Regions from separate parts of the Homo sapiens genome. Here region 1 is linked to region 2. The links come from fine-mapping of genetic effects on gene expression. A gene starts in region 2. The other region holds a variant in brackets. All regions are shown on one strand. Distances are from middle to middle. Region 1 overlaps ALKBH8 (alkB homolog 8, tRNA methyltransferase). Region 2 holds the start of ALKBH8 (alkB homolog 8, tRNA methyltransferase).

Region 1 (8,302 bases), 58 kb before region 2:
TTGTACTATTGCTACTGACAACCCTATAGAGAAAAACAGAGAAATCCATCATCATAGTGTCAGATTTTAAAACATCTGTCTCAACTTATAAGAATGAGCAGACCAAAAAAAGTCAGTAAGAATATAGATTTTTATTATACAATTAACAAATTATATTTGGCATCACTTAATACCTAAAACTCCTCTGGGAGTAATAATAATGAACATTTCTCAAAGCCATACTATATTCTTACACTATCCTATGATGTATACAAATATACTTTCAGTGAATTTTCATAACAACTCTTCCAATTTTACAGCTAAGAAAACTGAAGCACAGAAAGTCAAGAAATTTGCCCAAAATCCCACAGCTAATAAATGGCAGATCTAGAATTCAACTCTCAGGAAATCTGATTCTAGAGCCCAGTTCTGAATTCCTATGCTATTTTTCAACATCTTCCATTTTCTCTCCCTTCTTGAGTCAATTTTGGTATTTTTCATCTTCATAGAAAATCATCTATTTCATTTGGATGTTAAAATTTATTGGCATGACTTGACTTCAAACTTTGGTGTCAAGTACCAGAATTTATATCAGAAATAAAACTATTTTTAGCCCTATATTCCTTTTCCTATATCATGAGCCTTATAAATTCATCCCAGAGGGACCAGTACACCAGGATGTTGGACTGAAATTCCATGAAAAAAATAATCATCCTCTCATCTGAGACCCATTATTGATCACTATAGGTTTCTGAAAACTTGATGCTTCAAGATTAAGTATCACTAGCATTAATAACAGTAAACATTAATTAAACAGAAAGCAATTTTTCTTTAAAACAGTCTTAAGCATTACTACTACAAAAGTAATGCATACTGGGAGTAAAGTGTTCAAAAAATTTTTTCTTTGAAAAAAAGCCTTTTCCTTCTATGTGATAATTTGACCTATGGTTGAATTTCTACCTTTGTTCCTCCAGGAAATCTAACCTAAGTGGTAAGTTAACTGGGTTACTATTATGCAATATTGTACAGATCTTAAAAATAACCCGATTGAACCTGGATTGGGACAAACTATGAATCAACTAGAAATAACCAATAATGACACCACAGCTTTGGCTCTAAGGGCACAGTTAGGTCTGAGTGACCACATTCTAACTTTTGTCATTTAAACAAAGGAGTTAAAGGAGCACATTTGGGTTGTTTTTAGCACCCTGCTCAATGAATTTGGAATACCAATTAACTCTTGATAATAAATTAGTCAGGATTAGTAGTTATTTCAGTCACTTAAAAGTAATCTTTTGCTCCAAGGTGAATCGTCTCTCATTTTATGTTTTTCATGGCATTTATCACTATCTGGCACATAGTATCTATTTATTGATTTGCCTGCTGTCTGTCTCCCCGTCTAGAATGTAAGCACCATAAGGGCAAGAGCTTTGCTCTTTCTTATTCACTGCTTCATTATCAGTACTTAAAATAGTAACTGGTACATGGTTGGGTTCAAAAAATAGTTTTTGAATGAAACTCCTACTAAGTTCTGGGTATTATCTGATTGACTAAACGTTATTGGACACCCGCTATACGTCCAGCCCTGGGCTAGTCAGGCATGGAAATAGAATGGTTATTGTCTATGATTTTACAGAGCTAAAAATCATAGGTAAAACTTCAGACAATTTTCTATTGACCAGGACTATTTTCTGTATTAACATATAATTACATCCCTAAAATCCTACATGATTTACTACATTTAGTAGCACTTTACTAAAAAACTATTATCTTCAAAATCCTGGGCTCTTACCCAAGAATTACAAACACTGCACAAACTGCTTCAATCACTTTTAGAAACCACCTCTCCTAGGGAAGTAGGAGGAGCCAACACCACATCTGTGATGTCAGCCAACAGGAGACATTTGAATGTCTCCTAATGAATCCCTACTTCCAAATTTTTCTCAGCTTTCCTTTGGTACTTTCCCACAAGTTTTCTCTTTAATTAAAAGGGTAATTAATTTATTCTCTCTTTTTTTTTAAGTGAGCATTTCTTCTTTATATATGATGTGTTCAGGTAAATAATCAGGCCTTTTGAAGAATCACACACCAGTTTCCTTGATCGTAGTAGCTTTGCAGAATTCTGACATCACTCACAGTCCTGCAGGCACCTTCCAGTTCTCCCTCACGGAACACATGGTAGTAACGATGAAACACAGGACTTGGGTCCTGGGATCCTATGGGACCAAATGGCTCAACAGGTTTGCCTTTATCAGGATTTCCCTTAAGGTGCCAGGGAACCAGTACATCTTGAGAATAAAAAGAAGTCCTGTTAACATGAACAGGCAGCTTGGAATTAGAAACTTGCCTTGAATTACATCCTCCTTCCTGAGAGTCATTAATGCGGGGGACAGAAGATGCCGAGTCTCGACTGCCCATGTCACGCATTTGCTCCACAAGTGACCTCTGCACTGAGGTATCACTGTTCATCTCCTCTTTCTTTCCTTGGCTATTTCTGTTTCCTCTAAGATACTTGGACTTCTGCTTATTATATTCTTGTTCCATTGCCCAGACATAAATGAGTGCCTTCCCACCTGGTCTCAGGAGTCGAACAATTTCTTGGAGAGCTGCCACTCTACGCTCCTAATGAAAAAAAACAAAACACATGATCAACCTGGAAGAGACAGGAAATCAGAAAATAAAACTGACCATAGGACTGTTTTCAATTAGGATGAACAATAAGAATATCTAACAAAATATCTTATGTAAAACAAAAAGGAAAAAAAGAAGAAAGAGCATTCTGTTCTGTGATTAAGAAAAAAAGTGTTCAGGAAGGAGGAAGTACAGAAAAGCAAAATTTATTTCTGTTAATCTTCCCTGTGACTTTTCCTTAACTGTCTGGCTAGGATACATGAAACAACTGATGACTTCTTCTAGGGCTATAAGCGGTAATATGAAGCACTTTGACATTAATCATTTATATAATGCTTTTACAAAGGAATCGTGTCAACTATACTATGGAGACTTCTACTTATAGCCTTGACGAAGTTGTTTGTATTAATTCTCCCACTGAAAACAACCAGAAAGGCTGGGTGAAATACATAAAACAGCTGCTTAAGGCACTGGAGAGTAACACTGCAGGCAGGCCTTGAAGGGCTGTAATCCCTGAGAGAAGGGAAGTAAGCCAAGGTGAGCTCTAGATTCACTCCAGCTTTTCCCTGAGATTATCTGCAAATTCATAATGTGGGACAACAGAATATGAGCAGAATGCAGAGGCCTTAGTGGCCTGAACAGATAGGGCTCAGAGTACAGGGAGGTCAAAGCAGCTGAGGGACAGAGTCACAGATAAAGGAGAAGCTGCAGGAAAATTATTCTGAAAATCTATATGCAAACACCCTTTGAAGCATTTGCCAGTTTCTAAGCAGCATGTACACAGGGTGAAATTCCAAGAAACTCAGCAGAGTAGCAGCTGGGAAGTTAAAATGCTAAACAAAAATTTTAGCAGCCAATGTTAGAGAGACAGACATTGGAATTTAAGATCTGCCAAGGTATAAAATAGCCTTGGAGTACATTCCAGGCTTTCACTTGAGACCCAGAAGGGCTACATTACAGAAGTAGGAACAAAAATAAAATAGATATAAATCATCCCCAATAAAGCATAAAACCAGTTCTCTGCAGAATGAAAGTGATCTGCTTATACTTTATCTGCTTCTCCTTAGAAAAATTTAACTTCCTTCAGAGAAAAAGTACCCAAATCTTTTAACATAAAATGCCCAGCATACAGTGAAAAATTATGAAGTATGTTAAAAATGAGGACCAAAGGACTGAAAAACAGAGAAAAAAAAAAGACCATAGAAATAAATCCCCAGACAAAGCCTTTTTAATAACTATGGTTAGTATGCTCAAAAAACCAGAGGAAAAGATCAAGAATTTCAGTAATGATAAAATACATTAAGAAGTCGGAAATTCTAGAAAACAAGATGAATTTAAATTTTTAGCAAATTAGATACATTTACAAAGATAAGTATTAAACTATAGTTCAAGTCAGTATAAGTTACCCAGATTGAAGCACAGAGATGAAAAAGAGGGGAAAATACAGAAAACAGTGTCAATCGAGAATTTAATACCTACTAAAAATATAATTTGTAAGATGAAGGCAACATAAAGAGGTTTCAGATACACACAAGCTGAGAGAATGTGTCACTAAAGAAAACAGCACAGAGAACTCTTCGAGCAAAAGAAACTTACTTCCTCTGAAACTCTGAAGATGTAGGAGAAAAGGAAGAATACCAGAAAGGGTAAATAAAGTGAAGAAATATAAATGAAGGTTGAGAGCTTAAAACAATAAAACAGTAGCATATAATAATAATGCAATAAAGGGCAGAAGGGGTTAAATGTTATTAATGAAGTCTTACATTGTCAGGAAGGGGTAATCATGCCAATTTAAGGTAGACTATAATGTCAGAGATACATGTTGTCATGTCTAGGGTAACCATTTAAAAAACAATGAAAGAATATCTAGTCAGCAAGCTAACAAAAGAGGAAAAAATGTAATTATAAACTACATTATGGAAATAAGGCTGGCAATGAAAGAGAACTAAGATACATACAATATTTGATAAACAGAAATTAATATTTCCAGTTCCACAGCTCTCTTAGCCTTAGATAATGCCTTCCTTAATTGTCAAAGTAACACACATTGTATTGTACACCCAAGTAGCCCATTCAAAATGGCCAAAAAGCCCAGGAAATAATCTCAGGTTATATGTTAAAATAGGAGGAAGCATCTTCAGCATGACTGATACATAGAGAAGTGAATTAATAGGAGGAAACTTTGTGAGGATTTTTCCAAGTTGGGTTTAAGGAGCTGGGAAATATCGGGAAATTAAGCTAAAAAATAAGACGAGACCATTTTATAAAAATGGTTGAAAAAAAGATTATTAAAATAATAATAACTAATATTTTCTGAGCTCTTATTATGTATAAGACACTATAACAAGTACTTTATGTATTGTCTCATTTATCCTGACAGGCCTGTGAGATTGTTTTACAGTTGAGCAACCTAAGTATTCAGAAATCACTAAAAATGTTTGTTCAAGGTCACAAAAGTAAAAAGAATGTCAAATAGTCGAAGCAGTGGTGTCAGGGAAGAAGAGACTGACACTAGAATGTAAACTGGATTAAAATAGAGATATCCTGGGATCAGTTGAAAAGAACACTGCAGTAGTGAAGGGATGTGGCACAGGTCAGTAGACTCTTTTAATTCCCTTACCT[A/C]GTTGTGTCCATATACTTGGATGAGATTTTCCACATAAAATCTTATCTTCTACCCTATATCATCTTTCACAGTGCCATAAAAATGATCTCTATCAGGCATTTATTTCATCAAGGTATTCCCATGTGTTAGACCTTTCAATGACTCTCTAAGTCCAAATTATAACTATGGCATTCAACCAACAACACATAAATCCAACAAATTATAAATAAATAAATAAATGCTGCCTCCTCCACTAAACTATGAGCTCTATGAAGCAGGGACTGGGTCTTCTCCATCTTGTGCCCAGCTATTTGCTTAATAGCAGTGTGTAACTGATTTTCAATGCCTTTTTTTTTTTTTTTTTTGAGATGGAGTCTCTGTCACCCAGGCTGGAGTACAGTGGGCACGATCTCGGCTCACTGCAACTTCCACACCTCCTGGGTTCATGTGATTCTCATGTCTCAGTCTCCTGAGTAGCTGGGATTACAGGCATGCGCCAATCAACCCAGATAACTTTTGTATTTTTAGTAAAGATGAGGTTTTGCTTTGTTGGCCAGTCTGGTCTCAGACTCCTGACCTCAAGTGATCCACTCGCTTTGTCCTTCCAAAGCACTGGGATGACAGGCGTGAGCCACGACAGCTGGCCTCAATGACTTATTTTTATTGTGGTAAAATATATGTAACAAAATTTGCTATTTTAACCATTTTTAAGTGTACAACTGAGTGACATTAAGTACATTCATACTTAATGGTTGTGCAACCATCACTATTATCCATCTCCAGAATTTTTTTCATCATGCCAAACTGAAACTCTGTATCAATTAAATCATAGCAACTCCCATGCCTCCCTCCCACAGCCTCTGGTAACAACTGTTCCACTTTCTGTCTCTATGAATTTAACTATTCTAAGTAGTTCATGTAAGTAGAATGATATAGTATTTGTCCTTTTGCATCTGGCTTATTTCACTTAGCATAATATCCTCAAGGTTCATCCATGTTGTAGCATGTGTCAGAATTTCCTTCCTAAGGCTTAATAATATTCCCTTATAGGTACATAGCATGTTTTGTTTATCTATTCATCCATTAATGAACATTTGAGTTGTTTGCACCTTTTGGCTGTTGTGAATAATGCTGCTATGAACGTAGGTGTATAAATATCTGTTCAAGTCTCTGCTTTCAATTCTTTTGGGTATATATCTAGAAGCAGAATTGCTGAATCATGTGGTAATTCTATGTTCAACTTTTTGAGGAACCACTGTACTGTTTTCCACAGTGGCTGATCCATTTTACATTCCCACCAGCAATGCACAAGAGTTCCAATTTCTCCACATCCTTGCCAACACTTGTTATTTTCTATATTTCCGATAATAGCCATCCTAATGTATGTGAAGTGGTATCTCATTATGGTTTTGATTTGCATTCCCTAATGATTAGTGATGCTGAGTATCTTTTCATGTGCTCATTGGCCATTTGTATATCTTCTTTGGAAAAATGTCTATTTAAGTCCTCTGTCCATTTTTAAATTGTTTTGTTATTGTTGTATTTTTGTTGTTCTTTATATATTATGGATATTAATTCCTTATCAGATATACAATTTGCAAATATTTTCTCCTATTTTGTGGGCTACCTTTTCACTCTGCAGATAGTGTTGTTTGATGTACAAGTTTTTAATTTTGATGGTCTAATTTATCTATTTTTTGTTTTGTTGCCTGTGCTTTTAGTATCATATCCAAGAAATCATTGCCAAATACAACGTCATGAAGGTTTTCCTCCTGTTTTCTTCTTAGAATTTTATAGTTTTAGCTCTTCTGTATAAGTCTTTGATCCATTTTGAGGTTTTTCTTTGCATATGGTGTAATGTAAGGATCCAACTTCATTCTTTTCCATGTGGTCAATGAATTATTTTTTAAATAAATGACAATAGATATGTAGAGAAAGTTGGACATGACAGATTTCTAAGACGATCATATAGAACTTCATAGAGGGGAGGGTATCCAACATATATTTGTGATTGCAAAAAATGGATATAGATATATTTGTGTACATTATTGTCTTTTATAACTTGAAAATAAGTTATAATACAACAACTGAGTTGTAGCTGAAGCAACCAATATGTGCCAAACATTTCTTCCAAATGAAGCGGATTTTTAAATTTACTGGTATAGCTGCTCCTTTCAAGCCTTCCTCTATTTGCAGTCATGCCTCTGAAAGCCACTGAGGCCTAGTGGCTTTTGCTGTAAAAAACCTAATATTGTTTGCTGCAGCCCAGCAGAATCTCTTGGTTACTATTAAAAGTAAAAAGACTAAAGACGCAGACAGTTTTCTGATTTGTTTTGATTTGTTTTGAACTCAGTTAAGGTCATAAGGTCTACTGAAACTGCTGGTGACCCATAAGGTGAGCTATAAAGCTATTGCATAAATCAAGGGAATGACTGCTGACACCCAAGAAAAATAAGTGGTCTTTTGTTCTTTAAAGAAAGAAAGAAAATATTAAATATTAAATTCATTTATTTTAAAACTAAGAACATACTAAGAGTCAACATACTACTACCAGCTAAAAAAGACAGAGTTTTGAAAAAAAAGAACAGGAAAGGAAGAAAAACAGAATGGGAAAGAAGTAACACTCACATGTCAGGGATAAAACTATGGGTTGAGAAAGAAAAGCTGAGAAAGAAATACAGAAGGGACTCATAGAGTCTGAGGAGAGAGTATACTCAAGAAGCTTGGAGCTGATGATCTCAAATTCTCTTCCAGCTAAAATTCTGTGACTCTGGGTTTAAAGGAAGGCATTTAGAAGTGAATGAGACTTGGGGTAGGAAAGGGGCGAAAGCATGCAGCAATAAAGGGTAGAGTCCCATCAGGCCTCTGTTTAAGTAGAAGATACTTAAACAGTTGCCCATCTTTATTCTGCATGCTCTCTTACAAAGAGGGAAAACTGTGACAAGAAAAGAGAACGGAAAGAACTGAAAAGCTAAAACAGGGTCCAAAATCAGCAAAATTCATGAACTCTTCCTGCTGCTTTAGCTACAAGTTCTTAAGAGAAAGAAAGACCATACTTACTGCTGTTGCAAAATGATGAATAACAGCAAT
Region 2 (8,344 bases):
GTCACCTGAGTGGCATAGGATACTGTCTCAATGCCTTCATGTCTCAGCAAAGTATGCTTGGCTTTAATCTGTTTCCTTAAGAACTTCTTCTCAGTTTTACTGAGTTTGTAATTACTTTGATGGTTGCTGTCCATAGCAAACTGTAAAAAAACAAGACAGTAAAAAAGTCAACCTTAAGAGTCCTGAAGGAACAATTATAATGATGTTATTCATACATTCTATAGTTTATCAATATTTCTGTGACAATTTTTTAAAAATGCTTCATTTACCTTGTACCAACTAAGAGAAGTGAGAACAGATAAATAAAAAATGAACAAATATCTAAGAATATCTAATAGCATAGCTCTGATGGTTCTAAAAAATGTTCCAATGTGGTAGCTCCATTAAGTGTGCTATTTTACTCATAGGTGATGAATTCTTTACTTATGAGGTCCTAAGTAAAATGTGCCATACACAAATTTCACAACTATAACGTAAACCAAGGCAAGGAGCAGGCAGGGGAGCGGTGGGGGGAGAAATAACACACAAAAAATTAGCAGACTCTACAGTATGATTCCATTTACATAAAGGTCATAATCAAAAAGTAAGCCATATATTATTTAGAAATACATACATAGCAGTGCCAAAAAAAAAAGCAAGGAAATTATAAACACAAAATTCAGGAGAGAGGCTATTTCTGTGGGTGAAAGGAAAGGAAATTAACATGAAAGTGACACATAGGAGCATCAAAGGGTGTTTCTTCAGTTACATGGTAGGTGTAGGTGTTTGTTTTACTATTTTAAAAACTGTATGTGTCATATATTTTATATCTACAATTTTTTAAATAACAGAATCCCAAAGAGGTCTCTATAATCACACCATCCAAATCAGCACCCAATATCATGCTTTATCACACTTTATCACAGTAGTCTTTTATTTTGTTCACAAAATGTAACATAATTTGTGATGATTCATCTGTTAGCTTAACTCCTCCATCATGATATAAATCCCAAGAGAGCAGGAATGCCAGCACATAGTAGTTGCTCAATAAATATTTGATGGTAGGGCTAAATGAATAATAAATGAGTGAATACACACAGTCTCAGCACCCTGCAGCATGCAACCATAATAAAGTACATAGTTTATGCTTTCAACAAGTTTGTAACTTAGTTGTGGAAAACAAACACTAAACAATAAGACTATGACACATCTTTATATAATTTAATGCTGATGGTACAGTCTTTAGGTATGACACAAATTAGAGACAAAAATAAGATGGATGTGGGCTGGGAGCAGTGACTCACACCTGTAATCTTTAGGAGGCCAAGGCAGGCAGATCACTTGAGGTCAGGAGTTCAAGACCAGCCTGGTCAACATGGTGAAACTCTGTCTCTACTAAAAGTACAAAAAATTAGCCACGTGTGGTGGTGGGCACCTGTAGTCCCAACTACTTGGGAGGCTGAGGCACGAGAATCGCTTGAACCCGGGAGGCAGAGGTTGCAGTGAGCCAAGATCATGCTACTACACTCCAGCCTGGCAACAGAGTGAAATTCCATCTCAAAAAAAAAAAAAAAGTATGTAAACTGGAAAAGTTGGGAAGGCCTCAAAACAGGAGATTTGTGCCATGTACTGAAGGATAAGAACACTATAGAATCAAATAAAAAGGAAAGTATTCAGTGAGGCAGTAAAGAGCAGAAGCTAAAACCAAAATGGACATGTTTGGCCAAGACACCAAGACACAGGCATAATTTTTTTAGACCGGTCCCACTCTCTGCGGACTTTAAAGTCTTCAAAGTCAACCAAATATACAAATTTGGGGGTTAAATAAAATCTTATTTATCTTATTTCACATGAAATCATAAACAGTCAAAATTCTAATTACTAATCTTTAGTATAGAAGACAAATGCCAAGTCTCTTAAAATGCCAGCAGTCCAGCTTCCTAGCACAGGGGGTACATACTAGGATGTAAGGCCAGTGAGGCAGGCAGGCTGGCTGGCAGCATAGCAGAGAGATGAGAGGTAAAAAAAATAATAATAATAATCCAGCTTGTTAATTAGAAATGCTGGCCTGATCTAGGCTGGGGGCAACAGAAAGAAGCGAAATAGGGGGAGAGGAGAAAGAGGAAGGGTGAGTGAAAAGTTCAGGCGGAATCAAGAGGCCTCGATGACTACCCAGATATGAGGGAGACAGGAATCAAAGATTACTTGTTAACCAGTTAGAGGCTGAGTGACTAAGAGATGAGTGCTACCACTTCAAAACTGGAAAGTCAGGAGGAGGTTCAGGAAGAGCTGCTCAGTATAGGAGGTAATGAGTCATATTTAGGATAGAATAATGTTTAAGGTATTGTGAGATACAGAGTTGCAATGTCTGGCTGGCAAGTGACAAAATAAAGTGGCTCCTAGGAAAGGAACTGAGGTTAAAAAGGTTTAGGAGTCAGTCGTCATTAAGACAGGAAGGGGATAAGTGAATGGACATGTCTAACATTGCATTAATTATAATTATTTGTTTTAGTATCTGTCCCCTTCCACTGAACTGTGAGCTTTCTGAAGGCGGGATTAAATCACACTTTTCTTAGTTACCACAGAGCCTCATTCAGTGCTATGAGGTAATATAATACAGTGTTTAGGAGTCCATGTTCCAGGTTCAAATCTCAGCTCAACCACTGATTATTAGCTGTATAATCCTAGATGAGTTGGTTATATAGCTCTGTGTTCCAGTTTCTTTATCTAGGAATAGGGATAAAAATAATAGTGCCTATCCCATAGCTTTCTTAGAATTAAATTTATTTATTATTATTTATTTATTACTGTTGATTTTCAGAAGCAGCAGATCAAAATGGCTTAACAAAACAAAGAATATCTGAGGCCCTTCAAAGGAGCTATTTTAGAGCCATTCCATTTCAAGATCTTCATCTGTGGAACAGCAACTTTGCAGTATGTCATGGAGAACAAGGGATGACTGCACTACAGAATTTTTAATATTTCACATGAGCAAACACTGCAAAGAAGGAATGAGAAAGAAACGATGCTAAATATATCTTTTTAAAATGTCTGCCACTAAGAGTCCAGCACCAGCAGGTGGAGCCTCATAACCACATTTTTGTCATCCCTTTCCTTTTTCTCTCCCTCAGTCATGCAATATTATTGCACGTGAAGAAAGACACTAAATGGCCTTTGAGGCTCAGTTTTCCACCATTCCAGTGGCTAGGCAATGTGCTGGCCCAACATATCTGAGTCATCTCAACAAGGATAGGCTGATACCAGCTGCTGAGGTCTGGAGGTGCCCCCTTCTGACAAAGCCACTTCCCTGGCCAGAGTTTCCACTAATGCACAGATACTTGGATGCTCCCTGTGACATTACTGGAGTGAAGTCACTATTAACTATGATACTAGCCATGCTGAGTCCGGTTCAGCCAGCTCCAGCCTAAGCGTACTCTCTGTGGGATAATGAAAGTTTGGAGATTATGCATGCTCTGCTACTTGCTTGTTAGTGAGTTTAAAGCCAATATATCCTACTAGATATTGCCCTACGTGGTAATAGTAGTATGTACATCATGCCCTCCTTGAATAATAGAGAGCCTATTATGAAACAAGCAGTATAGACAAATGTTCCTATACTTATATGTTTAAAAAAATGCAAAAACCATGATTACTTTTGCACAACCTAATAATTAATAGCAAAGATTAGAAAGAATCTAACTTCCTATCAAACGAGGCCCAATTTTAACGTACGGCACTGGTATACAGAGTTTACATATAAATCTTTAGGACACACAAGAAATTGGTGATATGGGTTGCCTCCAGGGAAGGAAAATGGATCGATGAGTAAAGGAATGAAAGGGAGCTTTCTTCTTTCATGACTTTTGAAGTTAGTAGCTATTTAAACTGCATCATCTATTTAAAAAGAAAATAAAGATTTAAAATTTTTAGAAAAAAATTCACCCCATCACTTGTCACGGCACCCCGTTTTAACTCTTTGAATAACACTTACTACATATTTTCTTACACTCTCATTAATTTGTTTATTCTGTCTTTCCCCATAACTGAATAAAGAACACTCACTCCATGAAGTAGAGATTTTGTCTCTATTGTTCACCCTGTAGCACCCAGCACTTAAACAGGATTTAGCACCTAGCAGCCACTCAATAACCATTTGTCGAATAAACCTAAATCGACTTTGCTGTCTTACCTCCTAAACCTCCCCTCCTCCAGAATTCTGAGTTTGGTGGCCTTCTTCAACGTTTTCATTAACACCTAGCATGGACCTCTATCTCTAGAGTTCTCACATGGTATTATAATTGCCTGTTTGTGTTGGGCTTCGGCCAGAAAACTGTCATCTATTTAAGGGCACAGACTTGGTGCCTGACATACAACTGACAATAAATATTCAATGAAATCTATCAAAATAACAGGCTGACGCTACCAGAGGTCCAGGAGTCGCAGGGATTGCTCAAATAAGAGCACAGGAAGACTCAGCTGCGCAAGGGATCAGATCATCAGCACTGCCTTTGCATCGATGCAATCAGACCGATTGTCACCGGTCAGAAAAGCCCCAGAAGCGCCACACTAACACGCCCCATGTTGCAACCGTCCTCTCCAACCCCAAAGAAAACAGAAGATTGACACAGGCACCACGTGAGCGCCCGAACCAAACACAAACACATGCACCCTAAACACTGAGAGAACCACCCAACGCAGACACCCTACTGCCCACACTGCACCAAGGGCGCCTCTGGGATCCATCCCCTTTCCCTAGGTTCTCAGCCCTAGCTGGCAAGGCGGATAGAGAAGACCGGAAGAGGCTGAAAAGAGGAAGCGGTGATTTGCTGCCCGTATGCCCGCCAGTAAGAAGTGCCACACACCTCCGCTTCGGCTCAGGCCGGATTCTCACCATGCGTGTGCCTTCTTCTTTGCCAGCCTCTCCACTCTAGCACCAGAACACCGCAGCGGATACTTGCACGCCATCTCCCCTGGGCGCGGCCATGTTGGAGAAAACTGCACTACATTTCCCATGAGCCCGCGGGACAACGAACAGCGCTCCCACAGTCCTCTTCGCCTCCCAGAGCCCGGGAGTGACCCTTTTTCGACCAAGTGTCTTTGTAAAGTGCTGTCTGTTACACTGAAAATTCAGTTGTCTTTTTGGGGGGAGTAGTAATAATTGGTAGTGCAGCTATATTTTTATCTGTTGCTCTCCAAATGGACAAGGTCAAACAGGTTTGGGCCCTTTGGTCTTTCAGCAATGTCCCCTGGCACCTTCTATTCTTCGTGCATATTTCCTCCTGAATCTTATTAGAGGTGAGAAAGGAAAATAAATCTTGGTGCCACAAAATCACTAAGCTAAAGGGAAAAGTCAAGCTAGGAACTGCTTGGGCAAACCTGCCTCCCATTCTATTCAAAGTCATCCCTCTGAGTCATCCCTCTGCTCACTGAGATAAATGCATATCTGATTGCCTCCTTTGGAAAGGCTCATCAGAAACTCAAAAGAATGCAACCATTTGTCTCTCAGCTGTAATACGTGCGACCTGGAAGCCCCCTCCTCACTTTGAGTTGGCCCGCCTCTGCTTCAATTTGTCCCTCCTTTCTGGACGGAACCAATGTTCATCTTACATATATTGATTGATGCCTCATGTCTCCCTAAAATGTATAAAACCAAGCTGTGCCCCGACCACCCTGGACACATATCATCAGGACCTCCTGAGGCTGTGTCACGGGCGGGCGTCCTTAACTTTGGCAAAATAAATTTCCTAAATTGTCTGAGACCTGTCTCAGATATTCAGGGTTCACAGAGATATGGGAGAGGATCCTGGGGTCTGAAAGATGGCATTGCATGGGCGGGAGGGAAGGAAGTGAATATGCATGAATGTGCCAGGGGAATGGTGAGTACCACAGAGTAATAGAAAGATGTGTGGAAGAATGGTGAAGGAAGCAAGACAGAATTCTGTAGGCCTGCAGAGTGGGAGTTGCAGGGAGGAAGGTTAGAGAAATGAAATGATATGACCAGAGCTTCTTGTGGCAAGTGGGAGGAGAGACTAGAAGATGACTGATGAAGTGAAAAGTAACGAAATATTAACAAGCCCAGTAGTGGCAGAGGGAAAGAAAAAAGAGCTGGTAACAGATCATAAGTAAAAGACAAAGGAGAGGGTGATGATTAGCAGTTGTTCCTGCTCTGTTATTTGTTATATAAATGTACCATAATCCTTCTACCTGCATTGGTTTATGAGCTATGTGAGTGCAGGGAGGGAAAGGTGTAGGGGAAGAGGAATCACCTTCCCATGTTGTTGATACAATGGCCCCTATCTGCAGTGCACCACAGTGGACTAACAATAAAATAGCTGGCTGACCAGGAAAAGTGGCAGTGAAAAAAGAGTGCTGTTGAGTGGCGGAATGATTTGTGTGGAGAATAGGTTACAAACATGAAAGAACAGAAGAGGCAGATAGGCAAGCATTGCAATAGTCTAGGAAAGAAAGGGTGAGACCAAAACTTAATAGTAAAAATGAGGAGGCAAGTGCAAGCTGGAGAGGTCAAATCCACCAGACATTGCAAGCTACATGAGTATAAGAGGACACACAGGAAATCTCCCCATTGCAATTCTGCTTCTGCACTACTGGATGCTTTCAAAAACACATCCCCATAGAGCTTTCTGCAATGATGGAAATATTTTATAGTTTGAGCTGTCCAACATAATAGACACTAGTTAACGTGTGGCTTATGAGCATTTCAAATGTGGCTAGTATGACTAAGGAAATGAATTTTGAATGTTTAAATTTTAGTTTCAATTAAACTTAAGTAGCCACAAGTGGCCGGTGTCTACCAAACTGGATAACAGTGTAAAATATCCTCTTATCTCTTACTGATCAAATTCAATTACTTCATCTCAGTATTTGTCCTGCTTTAAGGTGCTGAAGCTTTTAAAACTTTTTTTCTGCACCTCTCTTTTAATTCTCTTTATACGATCTGATCACTTACTTTCAGAATTTTCCACTAGTTTCTCTCACTCTGTCCGTAATTAAATATAGGCAATCCCTCAGATTTTGAGTTTGACTCTTTTCTGTTATTCTAGTCTCTTCCTGTCTGCCCTCCCCAGAGTTATAAAGAGATTTGTGAATCATTCCCTAATCTTTATCTTCAGCCCTGGCTTCTATTAAAAGAAAAACTTTAGCCAAATTAAATTTAAAGGAGTTTAATTGAGCAATGAACTTTTGATTCGTAAATCGGGCAGCCCCCAGAATCACAGCAGATTTGGAGAGACTCCAGCACAGCCATGTGGTGGAGGATTTGTAGACAAAAAAAAAAAAAGGAAATGATGTACAGAAATCAGAAGTGAGGTGCAGAAACAGCTGTTATTGGTTACAGGTTGGTGTTTGCCTTATTTGAACACTGTTCAAACAATTGGCTACATTTGATTGGCCAAAACTCAGCGATTGGCACAGGTGTGGGCTATGGTTGGTTTACTCCTCCACTTGTTCACGATGTACAGAAAAACCTTTAGGCTGAACTTAAATATGTAAGGAGGCAGCTTTAGGCTAAACTTGATTAACACTTCCCTTTAGAAACCAGAGTGGTTTCTAAAGAATATGGGGGCATTGGAGTATGACCTGAAATCAAAACTACAAAACAGCATTTATTTTGTTGAGATTTACGTGATAATTAATAAAACACCAAACAGAGATTAGCTGTTAAGTGATTATTCATTTATCTTCTTCTCCTGAGTTACAAGCCTTCATTTCCCATTATCTGCTGCCCATCCATGTCTCAATATCTCCAGAAAAAGGTGAATACATATACAATTTTGTGTGACATCCTTTGTATACAGACCCTTATCTTTTCTTGGAATATTGCATAGACCATTTCTTCTAAGGAAGATGATTCCCCAAAAGATTTTCAGGTACACTGAGACCTTGTTTTATTTATTATGTAACCACAATGTCTTCCATAGTCTTGTAATACTAGAAATTTAATAAATGTTGAGCTGAAAAGGAATTTTTATTTGAAGATATAATTCATCTTCACCTGTGCCAAACACTTTACATGGTGATCTATAATAATTTTTCAAAAGTATGAAATGCTGACCTGTTTCCTTAGTAAAACCTTAGTCTCAACTTCATGAGAGGTGAGTCCTCTATGTGACTAGTAGTGGGGTCAGCAAGATTTTACTGTAAAGGACCAGATAATAAATATTTTCAGCTTTGTGGCCAAATATTCTTTGTTTTTATTTTTTTACTTTTATTTTTTGGGATGGAGTCGCACTCTGTCGCCCAGGCTGGAGTGCAGTGGCACAATCTCAGCTCACTTCAACCTCTGCCCCCTGGATTCAAGCGATTCTTCTGCCTCAGCCTCCTGAGTAGATGGGATTACAGGCACGCG

The links. PIP is the estimated chance that this variant, and not a neighbour inherited with it, causes the effect.
Region 1: its variant is fine-mapped to the expression of ALKBH8 in whole blood (TOPMed, PIP above 0.99).

What each region holds. Positions count from the first base shown.
Region 1 is chr11:107,502,615-107,510,916 of GRCh38, forward strand. ALKBH8 (alkB homolog 8, tRNA methyltransferase) reads right to left here. Exons shown (of 12, transcript NM_138775.3): 11 at 8,273-8,302; 12 at 113-2,601. The coding sequence ends at 2,044. Among named protein-coding and RNA genes, the nearest start is that of CWF19L2, 49 kb to the left of the region's middle. The variant A/C (reference allele first, on the strand shown) is at 5,233.
Region 2 is chr11:107,560,760-107,569,103 of GRCh38, forward strand. ALKBH8 (alkB homolog 8, tRNA methyltransferase) reads right to left here and starts at 4,976. Exons shown (of 12, transcript NM_138775.3): 1 at 4,842-4,976; 2 at 6-140. The coding sequence starts at 134. RefSeq lists enhancers at 4,327-4,845, 4,649-5,138, 4,846-5,362, 5,209-5,268, 7,197-7,276.